2 separate regions of the Homo sapiens genome follow, and region 2 is linked to region 1. The links come from fine-mapping of genetic effects on gene expression. A gene starts in region 1. The other region holds a variant in brackets. All regions are shown on one strand. Distances are from middle to middle.

Region 1 (2,913 bases):
GCACAATGCTTGATACGGAGTGAGCCTCAGGGCCAGTAGGTTGGTCTTTTTTTTTTGAGACAGGGTCTTGCTCTGTCACTCAGGCTGGAGTGCAGTGGCATGATCATAGCTCACTGAAGCCTCAACCTCCTGGGCTCAAGCAATCCTTTCACCTCAACCATGGACCCCTCCCCCTGCCTCCAATAGCTGGGACTACAGGTGTGCACCACCACATGTAGCTAATATTTTTTCCCAGACCCCCAATTTTTAATTTATTTTTGTAGAGACAGGGTTTCACCATGTTGCCCAGGCTGGTCTTGAACTCCTGGGATCAAGCAATCTGTCCACCTCGGCCTCCCAAAGTGTTGAGATTACAGGTGTGAGCCACAGTGCTTGGCTTAATGTGTGCATTTCTTCATAGCATCTTTTCTTCTAAGGTGTTCTTTCAAGAGGGTAACTGAATACAACCAAATAACTAGGGGACAAGACAGGGTACCTACCAGGCACAGCAGAACTCCAGCTCTGTCATTTGCATCTGGTATAAACTTTTGCAGCAAGTCACTCACCGGTCCCTCACTTTTTCCATCTACAAAATGGGATAATGAACTCATGCTATATATAGCTTTTGCCTATTACACAGTTGGTAGATTATTACATTTCCATCAACCAATCTACTAATAAGTAAGCCTCCCTACAGCTGTCACTCCTCCAACCTTCAAAATAACAACAACAACAACAACAACAACAAAAACCCACAATACTTATGTCAAGGTGGGTACAAAGGTGAGACAATTCAAGAGGATAATCTGATTGAAAGTCTAGTTAATGCCACTCGGGGGTAACCAAAGTTGTGTTTGTGACCCAGGACAAATGGGACAGTCAGTAGTTCATGACCCAACTGTAACTATAGAGGGAAAATATCTGCACTTATTCTAATCTGGTTAACTTGGGTCCAAGCTGAGCAGCTGGAACTGTCTCCCTGAGAACAGCATCACATCTCAAAGATTACATAACTTTAGCAGTTACAGAGACACATGTGTGTGACCATGACACCACTAGAGGCATATAGGAACCTCCTGAATCTCTGAAGTTGTAATGATCTGTCTTTTGTGATTAACCCAGAGTTGTCAACTTCATTCCTATAACTAATAAGCTAGATGATTAGAAAACAAAGGGCCCAGGTCCCATTCTTCCCTTTAGCAAATGTTTATTAAGCACCTACTATCTAACAGAAACTACACATCAGTGCACAAAGAAGACATGATTTCTGCCATCAATGTGTCCCTTACGGTGAACACAGCCCTCAAGGTCACAACTTAGAATGATCAGAAATCGAAGGTGACAGAATGATTAAGAAATACTCTCTTTGCATGAAATATGCAAAGTTTGGATTAGATTCTCTTAGAAAATTAACTCCCACTTTGCCCTAGTTTTTCTTAAAGCATATCCTTGGACCACCTGCATCAAAAAAACCCAGCTTCCAGAGCTACTGAATATGTACCTTGGGAGGTGGGAACTCAGAAGCGACATCATGAAGCTCTCTAGAAAATTGTACATGCTCACTAATGTTTAGAGGACTGCCTTGGTCCACAGCTCTGGGACATGACCACGCACAACTTACCTGTTTCCTAGGCAGGTGTGTCTGATGGAGGAGGGGAGACGGGCAGGTTCCACAGGCTCTCAGGTTAGAGAGTGGTGGAGGAGACTGGCAGAGGAGGAGAGCATGGCCGGCCGTCTTGGAGAAAGAGCAGTGCTGGTGTCTGCTTACTCCTGACCTCAGGCTTTTCCTTATATGGGTGTACCAGGTAAAGGCAGGCTCCACCTTCGTTAAACAGTGACTTCAGCATTGGGCAGTGGCCTGCCACCTCTTGGAGAGAGAGAGGACATTGAATGTAAACAGCAACAGCTTCCAGATTCTCCGCCCCAAGCCTATCTCTGCCTTATCCCACCTCACTTCCTGGGGCCCCTAAGCTGCCCGTTTCTTGGCTCTTGCAGTTTTCATTGTTTCCAGATATTTAAGTTTCTTTATCTTTATTCTGCTTCAGGGAATTTGTGTTTTGTTTTGGTTTGTTTTACAAAACCCCTCTGCTGAGAAAAGACTGAGGGAAGCAACCTTCCTTCAGGCCTCATTCTCATACAGGAAAGTACAATTGCCATGTCTCCTGCATCAAGAGTGGCCACTCCACGTCAATCATATCACATCTCTTTCTACTAGACGCAGTATCTTCTTTCTACAAATACATTGTAGAACACATTAACTCCTGGGCATGGCGAGACCCAGGGAAGGTCTCTGCATCATCCCTGCTTGCTGGATGGGGCAGAAAGAGATGAGGCGTGTAAAGTGCATGTTTCCTGTTCTCAAATCCAAGGGGCTATTTGCTTTTCTGGCATCTTTAATTCCTTGATGTTCTTCATCCCCATTCATAAGTGCTCTTTAGAAGCCAGTTCCAGAACCCTGATCGCATGGCACACCCTATGCTATAGGCAATAATGATAAAATAGGTAAAACAGGGAAACAATGTGGAAATCACCAAAAACTGTTATGACTGGTCCATTCCCAAATTCTGATGAGTAGAAAGGGATATTTGGCACATGAATGAAGAATCTGAGAAGCTGGAAAGTATGGATATGAGTTTTAACCCCAGTTTTGCAACTTTTGGCTGTGTGACCTGGGCAAGTCCCTTCCCATCTTAGTCTATTAATCCGTGAGCTGAGGATTATGATGCTTACCCTGTCTGCCTTGTGTTTGTTTAGTGGGATTCCTGCATCCCAGCGGACACCTTCTATTAGAAATTTCACTATAAATACAGTAAACAATACACACACACACACTATTGCATAAACATCATCAGTGAATAAATACGCAGATATCTGTGGTGCATGTTCAAAATGATTTTACTAATAGAGCATGCAATGAAAAATGTTGGAAAGCCA
Region 2 (2,913 bases), 210 kb after region 1:
GCAGGGAGGCAAGCCTTGGCCTAGGCCTACAGGAATTAACTAGACTGAGACAGAAGCACAGGAAGGAGGGAGGGAAGGGATAGGGAGGGTGGACACCCACGAGAGCTGGGTCTGCAATCTCTCCTCCAGTTACTGTCTCTGTGACCTTGGGAAGTGACTTAACCTCTCTCCCTCAACTGAGAGTTAGCTGTCTGGCTGTCTATTCTGCAAAACTGTGATGCCATTTTACGGATCTAATGGACTAAAATAAGTAAAGCACTAAGCTCTGTGCCAGGCATACTTTTAGCACTCAAAAAAGAATAGCTACCACTTTGGTAGCAAAGTGAAGACAACGTTGTATGTCCATGGGGCAGTAAGAGCTGACTTTTAGATCTGGCCTCCACAACCTTGAATCCTCGGGTAAACCATTTCTGCTCACTGGGTCTCTGGTTACTTTTCCCACCTATAAAATATAGGGGTTACATAGCAGAGGCATCCTTAACTATTTGAGGAGACAGGGCCCTATTTTTCAGTGTAATAGAAGCCATGGTCTTTTCTTCCCCAGAAATAGATGCAAAATTCTGCTCACAGGATCTAGGATCCAGTGCCACCCTGGGGCCACAGGAGGCACCTGGCTGTTAAGAGGAGAGGGCGCCTCTCTGAAAGATGAGCTCACACTGGCAGACCTGTCTGGCAGCAAATAAATCTATGATACTCTCCCTTCTCCCTCCCAGCTACCCCTCAGGGGGCCAAAGCTGGCTCCTCAGCTCTGCCAGCCTCTGCCCACCCCATGCCGAGCACAGTCAGGAGGCATGCTGTGCAGAGGGACTCCATAATTGGTCCCTGCTCTGTTTGTACTTCAAACAACAACCTTGAGATGTGTTCTCTGGACGTGCCGCCTGGCTCTGGCTGCCATAACGCTCAGCCGGGAAACACATCTCCAGAGATCCACAGCACTGGGGAAAAGCTAGGCATTCTTCAGCTGATGCCCAGGAGCTGAAGGTGTTTGAAACGGGCAGGGGCAAAGAAGGGTGGGGAACGCCAGTCTGCTCAGGAAATTCTCTACTCCTTGGTGACAGTTTCCAGTACAGAAGATATCTCCTCATTCTCTTTGCAGAGCCGACCAACAGATAAGCGCTGGGGATTTATGTCTTTAGACCTGTATTTAATTTTTCACACTGCTGCTGGAATGGCTCTTCTAAGACACGGTTGGATCCCACTCACAGAATAAAGGCCAAGTTCTTTGCCGTGGTCTGCAAGTACTGCCCTGGACTTTTGGTCTGGCTTAACCCTGGTTCCCACACACTGGCATCCTTCCATTAAACTGCCACCACCATGACTTTAAGGAAGCAAGCAAATCTGGTCCCTGCAACCTAATAGTGTCCCCTCTTCTTATGGCAGCACCTATAGTTACCTGTTTATTGGGTCTCTTCCACAAAACAGCGTGTGTCCTGGAGGCAGGAGTGTGGCTTTTCTCTCTGAGAGGTTGGTAATAAAAACTGCTCACAGCCTCAGTGCAGCTCTCCCTTCCCACCTCACTCCACCAAGGCCCTCAGGCTACAGACAAGGGGACAGACACAGAACTCACAGCCCTCAAACTATGCCTTGTGGAGGAAATGAACAGGCTCAGACATGGTGAAAAAAGGGTTAAGAATGAACTTGCCCTGAATCAGGGTGTGTAGGTCAAGCAAGATGCAAAGGAACTGCATGGCAATGATGCAAACATGCCCCTGTG[T/G]GGGTGGGGCCAAAACCAAAACCAAACAAACCAACAAAATGGAACACAGTATGAAAAAAAATCCAAAAACAACACCACCCACACACACAAAACAAAAACCCCAGTCTAAATAAAAACAACTAAACAAATGGAAGGAAATTACCCAAACGTGCTTCATGCTATGGAATAGCTTAAAAGCATGAATTTAATAAAATAAGAGCTAAAGGATTAGATGATTAAATAAAGCAATGGAATAAAGAATGATAAAACTGAGAACCACAAAACACTTTTGCAGAACCAATAAATACATGTTGAAACTCCAAGAAGCAGTGCAGGCACAGCAGGAAATCTAATTACTGATACCAACTAAAGGGTTCCAGTCCTGGCTCTGACACTCTTGAGCAGTGGGACCTTGGGCAAGTCACTGGGACTCAGAGGAGAAAGATTTAAATTATTAAAGCAACTACAGGAGAGAATAAAATGTATAGAAAGAGCAAAGGTGATCCAACATCAGAAAACTGGTGAACCTGAAGCAGAGAAACAGATGGAACACACAAAACAGTCTTCATCTTTTTAAATAAAAACCTCCTGAGATGAATAAAGATCTGAGTCTGCACATCAAAATTGCACACCACATTCCATAAAAAATTGATACAAAGGGATTGACACGAAGATGTTTCCTGGTTTAGGTATCGAACTTCCAAATGCAAGAAAGAAATCATCAAGCACCCAGGCAGAACCAACAAGTCACCTACAGAAGGGGAAATGTTCAGCTGACCTCAAACTTCCCCGCGGCAGCTTTCCATGTCAGCGGATAATGAAGCAACACCCACGGGGCTGAGTCCAAATGTGACCAGAAGCATTTTAACCTGCTGAGGTGCCGTTCAAGTACGGACAGCAGGAGTGTGATATTCCCACATCCAAGCTCAGGGATGACAGCACCTATGAGCCCATTTTGAAGCAGCCACTAGAATCCACTATGGCAGACTTCTAATTTGGACCCCAGTCTGTCTGGCCCATGCTCTTTCTGTTAATGCCATTTCTGCTTTATATATGAATTTTGTTCCCACATGCAGTCAATGAAGAGGTGGTTCAAAATAAAAAACCCAAGAATGGAGCAGAAGAACCAGTAGAGCACTGAATCTATGTAATTACAAAACTAAAAGTAAACAGCTATGGGAATGGTCATGAAACACTACAAAAGTGTTATAGACTCTGAC

The links. PIP is the estimated chance that this variant, and not a neighbour inherited with it, causes the effect.
Region 2: its variant is fine-mapped to the expression of CAPN13 in whole blood (TOPMed, PIP above 0.99).

The regions. Positions count from the first base shown.
Region 1 is chr2:30,805,702-30,808,614 of GRCh38, forward strand. It overlaps CAPN13 (calpain 13), which reads right to left and starts at 1,745. Exons shown (of 23, transcript NM_144575.3): 1 at 1,601-1,745.
Region 2 is chr2:31,011,001-31,013,913 of GRCh38, forward strand. All of the region lies in intron 1 of GALNT14 (polypeptide N-acetylgalactosaminyltransferase 14), which reads right to left. Among named protein-coding and RNA genes, the nearest start is that of GALNT14, 130 kb to the right of the region's middle. The variant T/G (reference allele first, on the strand shown) is at 1,715.